Homo sapiens: one gene and its partners. The protein of the gene in region 4 purifies or fractionates together with the protein of the main gene of each other region. This does not show direct contact. Each region holds a gene or a part of one and is shown on either strand. Other genes may lie near its edges. The genes, in order: TMEM67, LRIG1, EIF2A and GML.

The links.
Region 1: the proteins of GML (region 4) and TMEM67 purify together in Homo sapiens (affinity purification with mass spectrometry; 2 studies listed by BioGRID and IntAct, with this or other methods). This does not show direct contact.
Region 2: the proteins of GML (region 4) and LRIG1 purify together in Homo sapiens (affinity purification with mass spectrometry; 2 studies listed by BioGRID and IntAct, with this or other methods). This does not show direct contact.
Region 3: the proteins of GML (region 4) and EIF2A purify together in Homo sapiens (affinity purification with mass spectrometry; 2 studies listed by BioGRID and IntAct, with this or other methods). This does not show direct contact.

The regions. Positions count from the first base shown.
Region 1 is NC_000008.11:93,813,851-93,818,625, reverse strand, and holds the end of TMEM67 (meckelin isoform 1 precursor), read right to left. Parts: intron 3,322-4,775; coding exon 3,179-3,321; intron 2,255-3,178; coding exon 2,174-2,254; 3' UTR 505-2,173; downstream 1-504. UniProt on the Homo sapiens protein: Required for ciliary structure and function. Part of the tectonic-like complex which is required for tissue-specific ciliogenesis and may regulate ciliary membrane composition.
Region 2 is NC_000003.12:66,393,019-66,400,065, forward strand, and holds part of LRIG1 (leucine-rich repeats and immunoglobulin-like domains protein 1 isoform 1 precursor), read right to left. Parts: intron 6,024-7,047; coding exon 5,952-6,023; intron 5,166-5,951; coding exon 5,094-5,165; intron 1,186-5,093; coding exon 1,022-1,185; intron 1-1,021. UniProt on the Homo sapiens protein: Acts as a feedback negative regulator of signaling by receptor tyrosine kinases, through a mechanism that involves enhancement of receptor ubiquitination and accelerated intracellular degradation.
Region 3 is NC_000003.12:150,563,757-150,570,803, forward strand, and holds part of EIF2A (eukaryotic translation initiation factor 2A), read left to right. Parts: intron 1-542; coding exon 543-625; exon of another isoform or gene 626-3,350; intron 3,351-3,936; coding exon 3,937-4,010; intron 4,011-4,145; coding exon 4,146-4,290; intron 4,291-4,419; coding exon 4,420-4,536; intron 4,537-7,047. UniProt on the Homo sapiens protein: Functions in the early steps of protein synthesis of a small number of specific mRNAs. Acts by directing the binding of methionyl-tRNAi to 40S ribosomal subunits.
Region 4 is NC_000008.11:142,844,799-142,847,396, reverse strand, and holds the end of GML (glycosyl-phosphatidylinositol-anchored molecule-like protein precursor), read right to left. Parts: intron 1,003-2,598; coding exon 707-1,002; 3' UTR 546-706; downstream 1-545. UniProt on the Homo sapiens protein: May play a role in the apoptotic pathway or cell-cycle regulation induced by p53/TP53 after DNA damage.

The DNA of each region.
Region 1 (4,775 bases), about 49 Mb from region 4:
GCACTTTCCATTAAGCCACACTCCTCACTGCTCCTTGACTTACAGTTATTTCCCCTCAGCTTATATTTGTCAATATTTACAAAAAAAACACATGCTTCATGCTTGTAAGTGCTGAGTTAATGATCATTTTGAATGTTCCTCAATGTAGGTCATCAGCAAAGCCTTCTGAAAAGGCAGTTAGGACAGCAATGCCAGAGAAGGAAGCATTTACAAATCTCCCATAACAGAGGCACTGGTCTACAGAAGTATTTTAGGGGCCTGTATGTTTCTAAGGAGCATCCAAAGTACACAACAGCTTATAAAGAACCTCTCTAGGTTTTGTTTCATTATGAAATGAAGAGAAATCAAATGTTTCTAGAAAATCAGTAAAATCAGGGATATAAGAGTCAAAGTATAGTGATTGGGTACTACAGAAATAGACAAAGGGTAATGAATCTAGTGAATAATTATGCACATGATCAGGAAATGTAAATTGTGACAATGTGAACAAAGGAGTCGACAGTGTATGAAAATCTGAACACATTTTTATGCACCTAGCCAAAATAAAAATATCATACAAAATTTAGAATGATTTTAAATGTTTTCTGTTTTAATTTATCAGCAAGTAAGCCAATTGATCCTTTATTGTGAAATTTAATACTTAAAAACTTTTGCACTAAAATTAACTTCTTCTATGTTGAATGATGGTTGAATTTCTTTCATATGCTTCTGAGTGAGTGGTTTTAAATATCCATGCCATATAAGTACATGTATTTATCTCTGCAGCTTTTATAAAGGCATTCCTGTACTGTGATCCTTCAGAAACTGCAGTTTCAAAGACTTCCTTTTCAGTCATCCTCAAGATTCAGGGAAATGTAAAAGATTCAACTTTGGCAATGGCTGGGACCTCTGCCCCAATAATGTTATATTCCTAAATGGTACTCCATCAGATATACATTAATGAAACAGAAAACAGAAATACCAAATGTTTTAGTATATATTTTCATCTGAGAAAATATAAATAATATTTATACAGTATTCCATTTTAAGTATTTACACAGCATTAACATAGAAAGCAGTGAGAAACATGATACATTTACAGTGTTTTGTTTTTGTTTTTTCTGAGACAGGGTCTTGCTCTGTCATCCTGGCTGGAGTGCAGTGGTGCTATCTGGCTCACTACAGCCTCCACCTCCTGGTTTCAAGCTATTCTCATGCCTCAGCCTCCCAAATAGCTGGGATTACAGGCCACCACATCCAACTAATTTTTGTATTTTTTGTAGAGATGGGGTTTTCCATGTTGGCCAGGCTGTTCTTGAACTCCTGACCTAAAGTGATCCACGTGCCTTGGCCTTCCAAAGTGCTGGGATTACAGGCGTAAGCCACAGCGCCCAGCCTTACTGTTTGTTATTTACAGTCTTTAAACGTAATTGAAAAGCAAAACTCTGGAAGAGAACTCTTAAAACATTAAGTAATTAAAATGTATAAAAAATGATATTGGGAAAAATGTCATACGTTATAACTTAATAAATGTAAACTATATTAGAAATGCAAATATATTTCATGGAAAGCGTATACTGACCTAATACAGGTATACAAAGGAATGAAAAGATATCATTTCATGAGATGCATATTAACCCAACAGTGAATTAATCCACTGCCAAAGAGGATGAGCAATTAGAATGATGCAAATTGAATCAGCAATAATACAATTTAAAATTTCTAAGTAAACTTGAAAATATCTTTCAACATTTATTTAACCATAAGCACACAAAACATGAAAATATCAAACTGAAAACTAGTCTTAAACTTGGAATCAAATTACTTTGTCAATGTGAGAAGATTCAGGCAGCTCTCAGTTTATAAAATAATCTACAGAGACAAATGATGGGGACTGTTTTAATTAGCATTAAAAAGTATTATGCTGAAAGCAACATTTAGATTTTTTTTGGCCTCACTGTCAGTATTAATTTATTATTTACTGCATTAAATACTACACACAATGGGAAAACAGTATTTTCTATTATATCAGGTTATATATTCCCAAGTTATAAAAATAAATCTTTCTGCAAATAAAAAACAAAAACAGAATAGTCTGCATTATAAGTTTTAAAAAATATGGCAAACTAACCTGATATCATGACTTTTTTTTGGCCATGATTATACTGAGTCTTTAAGTTATTTATTCAGGAAGTTAAATCAAAAATCTTTGATCCACCAATGTTTTGGATGCCAAATTCTTTTGTCCTACTGTATTACGGATATATCTAAAAATCTGGAAAATTAAAACAATTCAGAATGAAAAGAAATATAAACAGAATTAAATATGCACGTCGATTAAAATATCTAGATTAAATTAGCTAATTCTCTCAACTATTTTCATGTATCAGGTATCTGAATCCCATAGTGATACATAAAATTATTTCAAGATGATAATTTCTTTCATAGTTTCATAGTATGTTCCCATTTAGAGTAAATTCTTATGAATTAATAATACAAATTCTCTCATGTTCACAGAAATACACTTTAAAATATATAGAAAGGCAACTTTCTTCTAAGTCTAAAACTACGGAAACATCAAAAGAATCTACTCACTAGAGATAGAATTTCTTCACAATTCTAGATCACTGTCAAGGACTAATAAATTGCATCTTACTTATATATACTTCTTTGACATAGTGGAGAATATTTAGTTGATAATAACACCATTTCAAGAACAGATTTGCCAATTCTTGAAATCTCTATTTCAGGGTCCACACTCATACATGAAGTTGCTTTTTATCCACACAGGTGGGGGAGGTGTCAAAGCTGCAAGCTTTGGTGCTGAGCCCTGAGCTAGCTCTCCAGTGCTTGTTTTTTTGTTACTTAACGTCTGGAGAGGGTGGATGGGACTCTAATTACTGTTCACTTGTAGCATCTAGGAGACTAGCAGTTAAGTGTCTTCCTATAGGATTCCTCTTCCATGTATAATCAAGCAACTTATGCCCTCCACTAGACCCCAGTATTTCATTGACCCTAAAGGACAGAGTACAGTTGGTTGAAATGTTATTCCTTCTTTTGGTGGGGTTAGTCATATTCTAAACCTTTACAAAATTGTAGTAAAAGTAGACATTGTTACTCTCTGCTATGAAAATATCTACTTCTAACATATTTCTCTCAAGAAAATGAAGGAAAATGTAGAAAAATTTTAAAAGTTTACCTCTTGTTGTAGATATGTAAGGAAGGATGCTAAAATAAAATTTTGGCAAGCCAAATCCACAACACAGAAGAACAGCAGATCAAAAATAAGAAGAGTAGCTTCATTTCCATAATACAGGACACTGCTGAAAGAATAACCTTCATCTATTAAAAAAATTTAGAAAATATAAATTAGAAATTTAAAAAAGGAACAAGTCTGTGATAAACTTCTGGTGACAAAATCTGGATGTTTAAAAACAGCACATTAGAAACATACTGTATACAATACTTCATGGCTTACACAAAAATAAACAAACATTTTAAGATTTGTTCATCTAAAAGAGGTTAGTTAAAAACTCATAAAAACTTCTAAAAAGCAGTTTTAACATTAGGACCAATGGTTGGTAATTGCTAGTAGTGTAAGTTTCAAAGACCATTTAATAAATAGCCTTTCTCTATTTCTTTATACAACTAAAAGCTAAATTAGTCTTACAAACATTCCCTAAGATACAGTAAATCAGAGAAAAAACCAGCAAGGCATAGAGTAAGTACATAGTGTTCAAGAGTTCAAGAATTTATCTCAAATAGTCCCGCTGAGGTTTTGCTCTAAGACCTCTTCTCACTCCACCAGCGAGTTTCATCCTTATTGGGATGTGAACACCCTTTTAAAAAGATTATGATGAGGCCGGGCACAGTGGCTCATGCCTGTAATTCCAGCACTTTGGGAGGCTGAGGCAGGAGGACTGCTTGAGGCCAGGAGTTCAAGACCAGCCTAGGCAACATAGTCAGACTCCATCTCTACAAAAAAAAAAAAAAAGAAAGAAAGAAAAGCTAGGTCTGGTGGGTCTGCTGGTGCACACCTGTAGTCTTAGCTATTTGGGAAGCTGAGATGGGAGGACTGCATGAACCAAGGAGTTTGAGGTTATAGCGAGCTATTAATATGATTGCACCACTGCACTCTAGCCTGGGCAACAGAGCAAGAACCTGTCACTAAAAAAAAACAAAAAAAAGCCCGATGAAAGCTATAGATCTTTCCATTAGGAAAAAAAAAAAAAAAGTATACATAAACTTGGGAGGCCGAGGCGGGCAGATCACGAGGTCAGGCGATCAAGACTATCCTGGCTAACACGGTGAAACCCCGTCTCCACTAAAAATACAAAAAATTAGCCACGCATGGTGGCGGGCGCCTGTAGTCCCAGCTACTCAGGAGGCTGAGGCAGGAGAATAGCATGAACCTGGGAGGCGGAGCTTGCAGTGAGCCGAGATCGTGCCACTGCACTCCAGCCTGGGCAACAGAGCAATACTACGTCTCAAAAAAAAAAAAAAAAAAAAAAGTATACATATACAACTCTTGCAAACAATTAAACAATTTCAGGGAAATCCAGAGAACCACTGAAGCAGCCCATGGACACCCAGTTAGGAACATCTGCTTTATACAAGAGGGCATGTGGAGTGCTGGTAATGTTCTCTCTTGAAAGGGTACTAGTTACAGGGGTATATTCAGTTTGTGAAAATTCACTGATCTATAAGTTATATCCTTACAAAATATGCACATTACACTTGCATATATAATCTTAAAAAACCTGTTTTACATGCTCTCTCTTGGTGATTTTCTACTA
Region 2 (7,047 bases), on a different chromosome or scaffold from region 4:
AGCAGGCCTGTTCTCAAAAGTGGTGATGGTGAAGGTAGGGGTGGATGCATGGAGAGGGCACACACATCTTGCCTCCAGCAGGCACACTGGCTACTCCAGCAGGCACAATGGCTATTGCTATGGCCAGAAAGTAGGAGACAGAAGTGGCCCACAAGGGTTGCCATATGGATGGGTGAGTTCCTGGTTAGGATCCTCACAGCAGGGATCTCAAGGCTCAAGGGAGACCAGTGAGCACAAAAGGCAGGAGGGACTTAACACCTGCCCAGCAGTTCCAGTCAGGCCTGGGAATCCCACTCTTGCTCCTGCTTAGAGCAAGCAAACAGGAAAAACTCAAAATTCATCTCATTTTTTGACCATGTCTTCCTGACCGTGAGCCTGTGTCAGTCCTGTCTGAGCTAGCCTGCGTGTGTGTTTTCAGCTGTTCAGCATTTTCTGTGCTCTCTGCAACCAAACTTGGATCCCGACTCCCAGTCAAAAAGATGGCAAGAGCTACGCTCCAGGAATCAGAAGGCAAAAAGAATGTAAAGCTGCAAGTGCAGATTTCAGTGGTTTGGAGAAACAGCAAGAGTACAAGTCAACATCAAGGAATTATTTTTACTACAGCAACTGTTCTCCTGAGACTTGTTCTTCCTGTATTTAACCTTTCATTCTTGGGGTCGGAAAGAAACACACATTAAAACGCCAGCCTCGTACGCGGAGTACATTCGCAGCTAAACCCGGGCACCAGAGCCCTTCTGAAACAACAGAACTATCTTCCTGTAACTGATTATTCTGATTTGTAACTGAACCAACTTATACTCCCTTCTGATTAAATGCATGTCCTCCAAGAACCACATAATGAGGCAACTCTACGGTAAATACTGTGTGTGGTTTCAGCAAGAAATAAATTGCATCCAGCAGCTGATCTGTAACCACGGGCTGGGGTTTACTCTGATCACAGGAATTACTCCCATAATGAAGAGTACCTCCTGGCTTCCTTGTCCTTCATGAAGGAGAGAAAAAGTTACAAAGACAGTCTTACCGCACACGAAACTCTCTGGTGGCACAGAGAAAATGCTCTGACCCTTCAGTGATTCTGGGTGGGCACAGGTGGCTGTCACAAAGGCCTGCAGCATCCTGCCAATTAGCCACGGGGGCAGCCACTTCAGCTGGCAGTCACACAGGAAGCTGTCGCTGCTGATATGGCTGAAAGAAACACAACAGTGGATGCTTCAGGTGCAGCCGCAAAGGAGGGACACTCCCTTCACACACACAATGATCAGTCGCCTCCAATCAGCTTCTCAAGTGAACATCAGCAAGCTGGAAGGGGGAAATGGTTTTTCTCACACTTCCTCTCCAATTTCCCAGGGCAGTGCATATAACCCACCTGGAGATTTTGAAAAAATGCAGTTGCTGATTGGGTGGGTCAGGAGTGGAACCCACGACTCTGCTAACAAGTTCACGTATCATGCTGGGGCTGCTGACCCAAGGACCGCAACTGGAGCAGCAGCAACGTGGAGCTTATCCATGCCATGTTCTGGGACAGACACTGTTCCTGTGTGACCCTGGGCTGCCTTCTGACCTCTCCTGACCTCTGATACATCCAACAGTGCTATGCTGCCACCATCCCCCCTCTGGTTTTTCCCACTTTCCTGATAAACTACTTGGAGCTTCCAAACTCGGCCTGAGACTTTGATCCAAATTCTGCAACAAGTTCCGAGGAGGGCTCTTTTGCCTCATGGCTGTTCCTTTTCCATTTGGCAAAGCTGCATGTTTTCTTACTTCCAAATGTAATAAGCCCCGTCACTGTGCCACCCTCTTGTTTGTGCCTTGATCTTTGCACCAGTATTCTTCAGGGGGCCGGCAGAATTCGGCTCTGCTCCCTAAATAGTGCTTGTTAGTTAATTGCCACTGCCCAGGGAGCATGAGAATGCACAACTTTAGCTTTGTGGGGCTCCAACCAAAACAGAGAATATTTTCTTTTTCATTTCTCAGCAACTAAGGATAAGCTTTTTAAACAGAAATCGGAATCGCCATCTCAGCGGACATTCCTTCCTGAGGAGTCACTTGAAGATAAGTCAACCAAGAGTCTAGCTGCCTTGTTCCTGGAAGACCTCAGAGCTGTGAGCTAAAGAATGATGGCTGGCCCACGATAAGGGAAGACTGGGAAAGAGAGCACACAGGCTTCCCTGCAATACACTGTCTCTGGTACATGGTGACAAACAGGAGGCACAGGTATGCGCAGAAATTCCAAAAACATCATGCAGGCCAAGAGCACGACTTTGGCTGCCTTCTCCACCCACCACTGTCCTCAGACATCAACAAAGCAACCAAATGGACTGGCCTTCCATTTTCTTCTGTTTCTCTCCAGATTTCTAATGAGCAGAGAAACTGTCACAGCAAGGAAGAATGAAGTGTAAGCAGATGACCCAAGGCTAAATTAAGTAAAATCCACTCTTCCTCATGTTCCCCATCACCCCTAGATGAGTTGGGCATCTTATTAAAATAATTATAATTTTGGAAAGTGCTTTTCCAAAAACAGAAATAACTTATCTCAAGGCCATTATAACTGGGATGCTGGCCCATATTAGATCTTAAAATCAGCATGAGAGTTTGCATTTTTATTTCACGGGCAGGTAGCGTTCTGCTGAGAGCCATCTGGAGGGCTGTCCTACTGTGGAGTCACTGCAGGTGGCGGAAGGGCTGTAACGGCCATCCCTGAGGAAATGGTCAATTCCCATGCAGTGTTTGGGGAGGGCAGCTCCCAGGAGTGCACCCTGCATGGGGGTCAGGGCTGGCTGCGCCAGGCATGGGGGGAACTCAGCCTGGATGGAGAACTCTCCGCTGTCAGAAGCACCTCCAGCTCCCCAGCAAGAGGGCACTTCCGTGCAGTCAGGCAGAACAGCCTGGGCACTGTTCACGAAAGCCTAGGAGAGAAGGCTGGGCCATCCCTGTGCGACGTTAAGCATTTGTGCAGGACACAAGGACATATTCCATTTGAACCACAGGAACAAACGGGAAAACAAATTTGACATTTATCTTTGATCAGACACATGTAGAAAGGGCTAAGCCTCATCCTACACACGCCCTGGACGTGTGGGGCTAACGCCTTTGAGGATTTCCTACTTCTTCCACCATGAAACCCACCTCAGACAGGAGGCCAGACTCCAGGAAGACAGTGGGTACTCAGGGTGGAGACAGCATGTTCCTAAACAGCAAGTTAGGACTGAGAGGATACATGGGGAGGGCCTGGGGCCAGGCAGTAGCGAGGATTCCAACCCCTAGGCTCTGCAGGCTCCTGCCGCCCTTCTTCCACCCGTGGAGAGCACAGCGCCATCGGCTCTACTGCCTTCTGCTGCCATCCCAGGGCTTTGCTGGCTCACATGGTGCATTTTCACGATTCCAACTCAAAGTGTGTTTCTAATCATCACTTGTGGAAATTTACCCAGAGGATGACTAAGTGCACAGTACAACCTGACTTGATCTGATGGAGAAAAAGACGACCAAGTGGAATTAACCATTTCTCTCATCTGAGGACTGGGCACAGGGCCGGCTCCAGCGAGGTATATGCAGCAACGATGGGAAACCCAGGCAGGAGACCGAGGCTGAGCCTCCAGAACCATGCAGAAGCACGCTGGAGGTCCAAGCTTCTGGAAGGGTCCAGTTCCTCCCAACTTCCCAAGGAAAATCTTATCCTCCTCCCTCCTTCTCTCAAAATACCTTCTTCCCGTTTAAATTGAATCAGGTATTTTTCAGTCCTGACATCATATCTGAAAGTTTCAAAGACAGAAAAGGTGAAAGAATTCCACAGTGAATGCTCCTGTGCCCCACCGCTTGTCTTCTACAACCAATGTTTCATTCCACTTGCTTTACTGCGAGTCCACCTCTGAGTCCAGCCTTCCCTTCCACGGTGGTCTGGAATCATCTCCTCCCCTGCTCTGGAAGGAGAGCCATGGAATCCTTTCTGTATGTTCCGTCTCACCCGACAGATGGAGGCAGAGCTGCTGAGGCTGGAAGAGGGAAGGCCCTGGGCACGGAGCAGCTGTCTGCAGAGCCCTGAGCTCCATGAACCCGTCACAGACACCCGCTCCAAGATCCAACCCTTGCAAGGACGGTATCTATTCAGCAGGCCTGAGGCTCACAGCATGCTGAACATCACAGGGCAAGTGCCCAGGCCACCTTCCCTCCTCACTCAGTCTGGTGTCACCCGGCCCGCTTCAGTTCCCAGCTATGGGGAATGCACCTCATTTCCCCAGTCCCAGCCTCCCTGCCCCAACTGAGGGTTCATCAAGAGTGGCCTCGGGGAATGGGGATGAGGTCAGGGCACAAAGATGACTGTCCTGTGGCATCTGCCATTCTGTCAGCACTTCTAGGAACCAAAAGTTACCCCTTCAGGGAACTGATATCATGGCTAGAACTTACTGGCTGTAGAATCAGATTCATGTCTAGCTAAAAAAAAAAAAAAAAAACCAGAAAGGAAAACTTGGGTGTTACACCTGAGGACCCAGACTAGCTCCCCTGCCAGAGTAGGATACAGGGAAGCTTTTCCAACCTTGTCACCCAAGAGCCCACAGTCCAAGTCCACAGTGGCAGCACCACCACCTGTGAACCGTGCCCAGAAAGCTTGGAAATGGTATGGGCAGACACCACTGCACCCCTAAGCATCCCATCCCCTCCAGAGCTCTGCCTTGCTCACAGCCCACCAGGCTCTGAAGTAGACCCTCTCAACACAGGCCTTTATCGTAAGCAAGCCCAAAAGATGAAAACTTGGCCCTGACATAATTGAAGGGGTGATTATCCACTTTATAGAGGAGAGTATATTTCACATTGCCTAGAATAGTGGTTAGCAAGCTTCAGCCTGCGGCCCGACTGCCTGCTTCTGTCAATGTGACTTTATGGGCACATAGCCACACCCACCTGCTTATGTAATGTCTATGGCTGCTTTCTGCTGCAATGATGCAATCAAGTAGTCATGACAGAGACTCTGTGGCCCACAAAATCCAAAATATGTACCATGTGAACTTTTAACAAGTGAGCATAATGCAATTGCAGAAGTTTCTTACTCTGAAAGTCTCCACTACCATTAATCAGACCCAGGGAATCCAGATACTTACAGCTCTTTAAGATTCTTCATCTTCACAAAGGCATCAAACTGGACAGATCTGATCGCATTCCCTCCAAGGTTCCTGAAACAGAACATACATTACTTATGCAAAGAAACCCTAGGTACACCTGAGGGGTTTTCAGGACAGTCCTGGTTTCACAGATGACCCACAGGGACTAGCCAGACCTGTGTCCTAACTACTATAAGTGGCTGTTGTTTCCCAAATCGCAACACAAGCCCATGGAATGACTCAGGAGCCAAGCCAGCCTTAGGGCACCATCAAAGCTGGGCTGAGGCCTGCTCAGCAAGGCAAAACCTTTCCCAACAGAGTTAGAGTCAAACTTGATTCAAAGAGGAAACAAACTAAGAATCACATACATGAGGCATCCTCCCCAGATGGCAACAGCATGACTGTCTCGGGTGGCTCTGTTCCCTTCCTCCCAGGGTCTCAGAAGCAACCACACCAAACTGGTTCAGCCCAGCACCTACTCTGCATTGTTAAGCTGCTTTAATGGAGGCAACAGGCTTGGCCAGGAGGAAGCGCGTTGGTGGAAGAGGCAATGAGGCCAGGGGTCCATGAAGGAGCCAGTGCAGGGGTTAGGCTGCGCAGCAGGAGGGGGGAGGGTATTTATCCAAATACCAACTGAATTAACTGGGAGCACATCCACTGGCCATATGTTCTGTAACTGTTCCTGGCATAGGCAACATAAAGGCCAAAGCTGAAGCTGACATAATGAGAAGGAAGCAGCTGGTGTTTCCAAATAGCCTGTTTCTCAGTTTACAAAGATGCGATTAAATTGCTAGCAGAACTCCCCGGCAGCCGCATTCAGCAGGCTGTGCCTCAGGGCAGGGCTGGTGAGATACTCACAGGTGCTCCAGGCCTTCCAGCCCCGAGAATGCTCTCTTAGCCACAGACTTGATCTTGTTTCCAAACAGAGTCCTGTAGTTTCCAAACATCCAGAAATTAAGGCCAGGGAAGGAAAGCGAAACAGGAAGGGTTGAGAGAAAGAAAAAGAAAAAGAAAACACACAATTAAGGTAGTGCTACCTGATAAGTCTGTCCAGTGAGGGGCAGGTGGAAAGCTGACCTGCGCTGAGATTACGGGTTTGAGGCACGCAGGCCTTCCCCTTTCTGAAATGAAATACTTTTATCTTTATTAGAATTTAATAGTGATGATAGGCTGGAATTGCATGTGCCGTCTGGCCTAAAAAAGGCCCCTCCCAGTGTTAGGCAGAAATCACCTTGTCTGGCCCAGTCTCTCTCCAAGGACCACCAACCCTTGGGTGGTGAAGTTTAGTGATGGAGAGATGAGACTGATTATGGTTTCAGTGAGAGGAAGCTGAGTCAAAAAAGGAAAGAAAAATCTTCGGAATTAAAACTGCTGACCATGACTGGGCATGGTGGCTCACACCTGTAATCCCAGCACTTTGGGAGGCTGAGGCAGGAGGATCACTTGAGCCCAAGAGTTTGAGACCTGGACAACATAGGGCAACCTTGTCTCTACAAAAACTAAAAAATTATCCGGGCATGGAGACACGCACCAGTAGTCGTAGCTACTTAGAAGGCTGAGGTGGGAGGATTGCTTGAGCCCAGGAGGTGGAGGCTGCAGTGAGCCATGATTGCGCCACTGCACTCCAGCCTGGGCAACATAGCGGGATGTTGTCTCAAACAAAAAACAAACAAAAACCCCCAAACTGCCACCCACTTCTGAAAAGTGCATTCTGGGAATAAAGCTTCCCAAAAGAGGCAAGAAGAGGACAGTAAAATAGGCATCCATCAAGCTGGCTCCACAGCTGTCTGCACCTGAGATGTCCTGGCAGCCAGCACACAGCCATGGTGAGCTGTGTCCCTGCCTACGAGAGGGACCCCTCAGGGCCTGCAGGAGATGCCCCAGTGCTTTGGCTCTTAAGCCAGACCCCAGACGTTACATGATGTCAGTGGGCCAACCTCCAACGTTATCGCTA
Region 3 (7,047 bases), on a different chromosome or scaffold from region 4:
GTAATAGAGCAAAAACTTGATCCTTCTTTCCTTTAGTATTAAGTGGAAAGGAACAATGTTTTCTTTTTTTTGTTTGTTTGAGAGGGAGTCTCGCTCTGTCACCCAGGCTGGAGTGCAATGGCCTGATCTTGGCTCACGGCAACCTCTGCCTTCTAGGTTCAAGCAATTTCACCTGCCTCAGCCTCCCAAGTAGCTGGGACTACAGGCACGTGCCACCATGCCTGGCTAATTTTTGTATTTTTAGTAGAGATGGGGTTTCACCATGTTGGCCAGGCTGGTCTTGAACTCCTGACCTCAGGTGATCCACCTGCCTTGGCCTCCCAAAGTGCTGGGATTGCAGGTGTGAGCCACCGCACCTGGCCTTTTCTATTAACATATATTGACTAAAACTATTAGTAACTGACTTAATATCATATTTATAAGTGTTTATAAGTGTTTTTCCTTAAATGGTAACCAATATCATAAATTACTTTAACATGTTAATGTGATGTTACATTCTGTCTGAATATTTTTTATACTTTTTTTTTTTTTCATTGACATAGGTGTCCATCCTGGTCAGAAGATGAAACTCTTTGTGCCCGCAATGTTAACAATGAAGTTCACTTCTTTGAAAACAACAATTTTAGTATGGAAAGATTTATGACATAATTTTATTACTTACTGTAATCGTATACAGTTTCCATTAACTTTTATGACATCATAGGGTTTTCCTAAATACTGTTAATCTATTAATCAATAATTACTCTTACATACATTTGCATAATTCTTTATAAGTCTGAATTCAGTGAAAATCTGTAACACAAAGGTTTTCTTTTACAATAACTTTTTATTATCTGGTAATTGCTATTAAGACATTTGAATATCTTTTCCTGAATTTAATTGCTATTGAAATTCTGTGACACAAATTTTTTAGATATTTTATCGTGTAGAATTTTAAACTTCAGACACCTAGTTCTAGTAACCATCAGCTTGTGGCCAATCTTATCTCATCCATACATCTCTCCAGCTACCATCTCTTACTAAGTGAAAGCAAATCCCAGATATGGTTATACTTTTATATACTTGTTAAATATGTAATTGTAAATATTTCAGAGTAGATTTCTGAAGATTGGGGCCTTTCATTTTTTAAACTTAGCCACAAAACCATTATCACAAATTATTAAATATGTGTTCAAATTTCTACTAATTGCAAATGTTACAATTTTTTTTAAAACTCGGGATCCAAATAAGGTACTGCACATTGTGGTTGATTGATATATCTTTTATGTTTCTTTTGGTCCTATAAGTTCCCACTCTATCTGTTATTTTATTCTTCATAATTTATTGTTTAAGAAACAAGGTTATTTGTCTTTCACGTTTTCCCATAGTTTGAATTTTGCTTTTGTATCCCATGGTATAATTTAACATGTTCATCTGTCCCCTATAAATTGCAAGTTGGCTCTAGAGTTTCAGCTTCAGGTTCTTTTTTAGGTGAGTAAGGGTAAGACTACATTATAAGGTGATGTTCACTTCTTTTATCAAGAAGCACATAATGTCTGGTTGTCTTTAATTTTGTAGGCTTAGCTGACATTAATGTTTCATGCCTGGATGCATTATTTCATCAGTGGTTGCAAATTGTTGATACTCTGGTTTTTTCTCCCTCACTTATTTTTCAGCTGTACTGCTTCTATAAAGAAAAATTTCCCCTTCTACTATTTGGTTACCTAGTGCTGCATTTATATAGAAAAGGCGGGATAAATATTCTTGCTCTTATCAGTTTTAATATAATGTATTCCACCTCTAGCAACCTTCATTGTAACCAATTAGCTTTTTCCCCATTCTTGTTTTTCGAGAGTGGGCCTCATTCTTTTGTCCAAGCTGAGTGCAATCATGGCTCACTGCAATCTCGACTTCCTGGGCTCAAGCAATTCTCCTGCCTCAGCCTCCCAAGTAGCTGGGACTACAGGCTTGCACCACCATGCCCGGCTAATTTTTGATTATTTGTAGAGACAGGATCTCATTATGTTGCCCAGGCTGTTTTTTAGTTCCATTCTTTTTTTTTTTTTTTTTTTTTTTTGAGATGGAGTTTCGCTGTTGTTGCCCGGGCTGGAGTGCAATGGTGCGATCTCGGCTTACCGCAACCTCTGCCTCCCAGGTTCAAGCGATTCTCCTGCCTCAGCCTCCTGAGTAGCTGAGATTACAGGCATGTGCCAACATGCCCGGCCAATTTTGTATTTTTAGTAGAGATGGGGTTTCGCCATGTTGGTCAGGCTGGTCTCGAGCTCCCGACCTCAGGTGATCCACCTGCCTCACCCTCCCAAAGTGCTGGCATTACAGGCGTGAGCCACCACGCCTGGCCTTTTTAGTCCCATTCTTAATGAGCTGTGGATTTAAAAGGTATGTGTTTCAGTCCATTGTAGTTATTTTTCTTATTGATGCTCAAATTGTCTCATCTTTGATCAATTAATCCTTAGTGACTTCTTTGCTATATGGTAAGACAAGTCATTCTAGGATTAATTTGTACATTTCTAACCATTACACCTAGAACTGGCTAATTTTTCAGGAAACCCTGTCGCCTTTTTGGTGTGCTACTTTTGAATAGCTATTGATCTCTGAAATTGAACAAAGAAAAAGTATTAGCTCTTGATCTCATTGAAGGAAACATTAAAAGGTAATAGGGTTTCTTGAAAAATTGGCTGAGTCTAGCAAAAAAAAAGGTATTTAGGTTCTAGAGATTCTTATTTGCTGTTGCATTGATCATTGTTTCTAGGCCTTTTTTTTCTATTTAAAAGATGTAACAATCATAATTTTATTTAAATTAAAGTTTTATACGTATAGTTTTATTTAAATTGAAGACTACAAGGTTTTTATTTAACTTCTATCTTATTTGTATTGCCTTCTGTCACCACCAAGAATCTTGTTACTCTGGAATACCAGGGATGATAATTTGAGAATATCACATTCACATAAGTATTCATTTGGTTTGTTCCACATTATCCACAAGGTATTCTTACAATCTTAATACCAAAAAGTAACACTGTTACTGAAAATAATTTTTTAAAAAGGGTTTGCAGTTCTTTTGTCTTTAGAGCATCCCATTACTGATTGTACAGTTTTGAGTATATCATAGTTAGAATAGGAATTGGTAACTTTGTTCACACGTACCAAAGATGGCATGTAGGCTGATTTTGAGCAGCATCCAATCAGTATAGTTATGCATTTTATTTTCCTGTGTTTGAGGCGCACTGTCACCTCACTGTTTCTGGGTTAGCTTGCTTTCTTGTCTTATTCTCCTCTTTGTGAGCATGTCAAATGAAGAGGGATCACCACTTTGACAGTTTGGTGTGCTGCTTTTGAAAAGCCATTGATCTCTGAAATTGAACAAAGAAAGTATATTAGCTCTTGATCTAATTAACTAGAGTGGCAGTTTTATTAATAATAGCATGGCTCAGACTGCCTGGAATAGAGTAAGCTCTTAATATCAGCCATTGTTACTGTGGTTGTGATCATCATTATCATGCATCTGTTTATCACATTAAGTTACAGAATTTCCATATCCACATTCTGCAGTAGCAGGCCAAGGTTGATCTTTTCCTTCTAATAGGCTCTAAGACCACTTTATTTCAGCGATTGAAGAGAGGATAACTGACATTTATCAAATACCTACCATGTGCCTGGCACTCTTCTCTTAAAACCAATTACTGAGAGTTGGGTGGTATAATCCCATTACTTGCCTAAGCTCACACTGCAAGTAAATGACTGAGTAGAAATTGAAGCCTACATTTGTCTTGCTCCTACCCCATGCTTTTTCCACTGTGTTACTGTATCTCACCAGGAGGAGACTACAGTGAGTAGTATTGGTGTGTAGTTATAGTGATCTTTGATAATGTATTCAGAGTTTAACATGTTCCTTTTAGGTTCTCTCATCAATCTGATTTAATTTACTCTTTTTTTTAGACACAATTGCAAATAAATTGCATTTGCAAAAAATTAATGATTTTGTATTATCACCTGGACCCCAACCATACAAGGTAATTGCTGTTTTTGTTTATGTGTAATATTATGTGTTTAAACCTTTTCCTAGTTTTTTGTGATTGTAAAAACATGTCCATCTCAGTTTTTATTCTTCAAAAAATTAAGTAATGATTTATGTCTATGTATCTTAGGTGGCTGTCTATGTTCCAGGAAGTAAAGGTGCACCTTCATTTGTTAGATTATATCAGTACCCCAACTTTGCTGGACCTCATGCAGCTTTAGCTAATAAAAGTTTCTTTAAGGCAGATAAAGTTACAATGCTGTGGAATAAAAAAGGTATGTTAAGTATATTTTATCCCTCCCTTTGTTTATCAGTTGTTAATTTAGGCTATATTCCTATGTGTATAACAGAAGAATCAATGCCCATTTGTGTTTTAAATCTAATTAAAGTTTTTACTGTTATAGCTACTGCTGTGTTGGTAATAGCTAGCACAGATGTTGACAAGACAGGAGCTTCCTACTATGGAGAACAAACTCTACACTACATTGCAACAAATGGAGAAAGTGCTGTAGTGCAATTACGTGAGTATTCCAGCAGTCTTCCTTTGATTAGAAACAATGATAGTAAAAAATACTATGCCATAAAGATGATATAATCTAAATTCTTGATCAAAAGATAGAATTCATATGCCTTAATAACCTTTAAGATAAAATTTTTCTTAATTAAGAAACTTAAAAATCATCCTCCAACATACCTTATTTTGGCAGAATACAATTAGTTATTTGAGTTACGCCATCGTTTTAGAAGTGAACTTCCTGAGTAAGGTAATTCCATTGTAGTAGCTCTTTTGGAACTTACTTAGCTAATTATGACGGCAAATTGCTTAATACTGTCTTTAGAATTGTTAGTAATATGCAAGAGGCCAGGCATGGTGGCTCGTGCCAGTAATTCCAACACATTTTGGGAGTCTGAGATGGGAGGATCATTTGAACTCAGGAGTTCAAGACCAGCCTGATCAACATAGTGAGACCCTACCTCTACAAAAAATAGAAAAAGTTAGCCAGGCATGGTGGCGTATGCCTGTAGTCCCAGCTCCTCAGGAGACTGAGGCAGGAGGATCACTTGAGCCCAGAAGTTCAAGGCTGCAGTGAGCTATGATCATGTCACTGTACTTCAGCCTGGGTGAAAGAGCGAGACCCTGTCTCAAAATAATAATATCCAAGAATGTTACCACTTCATCTGTTGTTTTAATGAACTAAAACTTTAAAATAATAGTTTTAAAATACTGATAGCGTCCTAATTTTCTCATTTTGAATTGAACATGTGTAAGTAGGGTAATCTATGTTTTAAAAAAACTATTTCCATTGAAGTCAGAGAAAAAACAAGGATGGCTCCCCTTTTCACTTTATTTTAATAACATTCTGAAATACCTAGTCACTATAATCAGCAGAAGTAAAATATATACAGTTTTGAAAGAAAACAAAATCATCTCTGCTCATGTAGATGAAGTCACACTATAACAGCTACTTTAAAAAAATGAAAGATTCCATATATAGCAAAAATAATAAGAACAAATATATAGGGCCAATGAGAAGAAAACTTTAAAACTCTTCAGAGAGACAAACTATGACCTTTACTAAGAAGAATTATTTTTATAAAGATGTCATTTCTCTCTTGTCAGTCTAAAACTAAATTTAAATGCTAACTGATTTTTTTTTTTTAACTAAATAAACTGGCTGTAAGGTTGGTGTTGAAAAATGAACACACAAGAATATTTTGGAAACTTGTGTAAAAGAAGAGCAGGGCAGGGGAAGTTATCTGGAGTTCTGACACTACCAGATATTAAAATGTACCCAGCACTTTGGGAGGTTGAGGCGGGCAGATCATGAGGTCAGGAGATCAAGACCATCCTGGCTAACATGGTGAAACCCCATCTTTACTAAAAATACAAAAATTAGTTGGGTGTGGTGGTACATGCCTGTAATCCTAGCTACTCGGGAGGCTGAGGCATGAGAATTGCTTGAACCCAGGAGTGGGAGGTTGCAATGAGCCAAGATCGTGCCACCGCACTCCAGCCCGCTGACAGGGTGAGACTCTGTCACAAAAAAAAAAAAAGTAAGCCAATTGTAATTAAGACAGTTTGGTTGTGGTATATGGATATACTGGTAAAACTGATAAATCAGTGGAAGAGAACAGAGTCCAGAAGTAGATCCATACTTTTGTAGACATTAATATATAATAAAGTCAGCATTTGAATCAATGGAGGAGAAAATATTGATCATTTAATATGTGGTTTGGGATAACTGGCTAGCCATTCGAAACAAAAGGTTATTATCTTCTTCACAAAATAAATTCTGGTTGGGTCAAAAACTTATACATAAGACTGCAGAGGAATTAGAAGAATATATGGGAGAATTTTTTTTCTAATCTTAAGAGTAGAAAAAGACTTTTTAAACAAGATAGAAGTACTAAGGGGAAAAAATAATGAATTTGACTAGAGAAGAATAATGGATTATTACAATGAGAGAAGAAAAGAGTCCATAAATTAAGCAAAATGAACAAAAAGTTGGGGAAAATATGTTTTTTAAATAGTCAAGTGATAAGTATGAGGAAGGTCAAATTTTCTTAATATATCAAGTAAGCCAAGTAAAAGACCAATAATTGGAGAAAAATAAAATAGGCATAGGATAGTAAAAATTAGTCCTCAGAGCCGGTGCAGTGGCTCATGCATATAATCCCAACTATCTAGGAGGCTGAGGTGGGAGGATTGTATGAGCCGAGAAATTTGAGGCTGCAGCAAGCTAAGATCCTACGGCTGTACTGCAGTCTTGGTGACAAAATGAGACCATCTCTTTAAAAAAAAAAAGAAGAAGAAAAAAAATCAGCCCATAGAAAAAGAAATAAAATTACTTACAGTAAAAGATGCTTAACTTATAATTTAAAAAATACAAATGAAAACAAGATAGACATTTTCACTTAGTAGGCTGATGAAGATAAAAATATGAAACTACACAGTATAGTTGAAGGATAGTGAGGGGGAAGCCTGCATCATCAAAAACTGCTGACAGAGGCTGGGCACGGTGGCTCATGCC
Region 4 (2,598 bases):
CCAGTTCATCTGGCAACAGAATTCTTAAGGGAAACTCAACAGGCCAGGAGTGAGTGGTATGACATTTTGAAAGTGTTGAACAGAAAAAAAAAATCCTCAACTGTCATCCAAGAATAATGTATCCAGCAAAACTGAACTTCAAATATGAAGGAGAAATAAAGTCTCTCCCAAACAAAAGCTGAGAGAATTCACCACCACCACATCTGTCTTACAAGAAATGCTAAAGGGAGCTCTTCAAACTGAAAGAAAAAAACACTCACGTATAAAAAGAAAACATCTGAAAGTATAAAACCTAGGGTAAAATTAAGTACACAGACAAACCAAAATATTGCAATGCTATAACTGCAGTGTGCAACCCACTCATAACTTTAGTATGAAGCACAAAGACAAAACTACCAAAATCAATTAATAGCTACAGCAACTGATTATAATAAAACCACAAAGTAATCCCTGAATACAGAGCAAGGGAGGGAAGAACAGATATGAATAGAGACTCCACTATGAGTGCTCAAGTACATGCAGGCAAACAAATGCTCATGAACATCTCCACTAAACAATATTTTTTTAATTTTTCTCTTACAACAAACCATAAATGGGCCACCTAGAGGAGCAGTGGATAAGGGTCTCTGGCTTAGAAGGGAATAATGGAGAGCAACATTTCTCTGCGGAACAGGTGAAGATGGTCAGACCCTCCAAGGTGGGGTCCTCATGGCAATATATTGCTGACTATGATAGAGGCAAAACTCAGCAACAGTTTTGATACCCCCAGCCTCACAGTTCCTTCTGGAAGCTCCTCCTCAGTTACTTCATCGGGTAACATGTCCCTTTCAAGATTAGTAGGTCCTCCTGCATTGCAAACCATGCTATTACAACAACAAACCCAGTAGAAGCTATTAGTTTTGAAGATTTTTCCTGGGGCTTCAGGAGGCTGTTCAGCTGCATATACAAATGTGCAGTTGTTTGTACAGTTCTTATAAACAAGTAGTTCACGAGAATTTATGCCTAAAAAAAGAAGCAGCAATGAAAATAATTGATTTCACATTTTCTGCTTGTAAATATTGAGGCACATACACCTCACATTCAACCATAATTAGCTCCATGTACACATTCTACACTCCCAGCTGTGATAAAATTGTCTAGAACACTTGACTAAGAGAGAACATCCAAGTCCACTAGCGGGTCTCATCACTCCCAGAACAACTTCTTCTGGAGATAGTTTTCTATCTAAGCTGCCATCTTTAGGCCTCTGGCCCTCCCAAAATGGTATCATGGTACCTTGTCATGTAGCTACACGCAATGAAATGTCCTGTTCATTTCTTATGGTAAGAATTCTAGAGCCCGAGAAATTAAATGCAGACCAGAAATCATGTTTCACTTATGGTCTAGAGATCACATGGACCTTTAACAGAGGTGTCCATATTAATGTAGCCTTAACTAGATTTTCTGCAGTTGGCAAGACCCTTCTAGGGTAAACTCCTTCCTGGGACCCTCAGCCTGGTGTTTCAGTCTCCTGGACCAACATATAAATGCTCTTGACCCTTGGTGCCAACCTCCTCCCCAGTACAGACTTGATGCACCTTTCCAACTAGGTACGTGTTATCCGATGGACAAGCCCTCTGGTGAAGGTTATCGATCGCAACTAATGTGATCACGACTAATGTGATCAATAATCTTCACTAGAGGGCTTGTCCAGTGGCCTCAGCTGACCAATGCCACCTGACCAAAGCTCCATCTAACACCTCCTTCAAGAATCCCAGGGTTAAATACCTTGGCCCTCATCACTACTTCTGTTCCCCTTGAAGTCTATCCAGTGTTTACACAAATACTTTATTCTGGAACTTACCATAATTGATTTATCTATTCATGGCTCTGGGTCTTGTCTCCTCTATAACACCAGAAACAAATGATGAATACGAACCAGTCACTTGTTTTCTGTTATTTTCCATTTAAAAAGTTTATTGGAGTTCACCATTCTACAGAAATGTGCCTGACCATAAGTCCACAACTCAATGGATTGTCACCAAGTGCCCACAGCCAGTACTCAGCATGCAGCATCAGAAACAGAGCTGCAAGAGAGCCCCAGGATTCTTCACTCTGTTCCTCCATGCAGACACTGCTGTGAGCAGCCCAGGCCAAAGACAGGAAATGTATGGGCTTCTAAACCTATAGGTTAGTTCTGTTTGGTTTTGAACTTTATGAAATGAAATTATACATTACATCTGCTTTTGTGGATGGCTTCTTTTGCTCTAATCTGTGTTTATGAAATTTATCCCTATTGTTGCACACTGTTGTATATTGTTCATTCTCAAAATTGCATAGCATTACATTGGTGAACATACCACAATTTATTGTTGATGGACATTGAGGTTGTTTCTGGTTTTTGTCTACTCCAAATAGTGCTGCAATGAATACTCTTGTCTTGTATTTGCCTTAAGGTGAGCCTGTATAAGCTTTTTTATAATTAGCTATGTACCTAGGAGTAGAAGCGCTGAGTCTCAGTGTTTGATACGCAGCTTTAGCCGACAACATCGAAGAGTTTTCTACACTGGGTTGAACTTATCTATAGTCTGAGGGATTGTGCACAGTTCAGAACCCTGA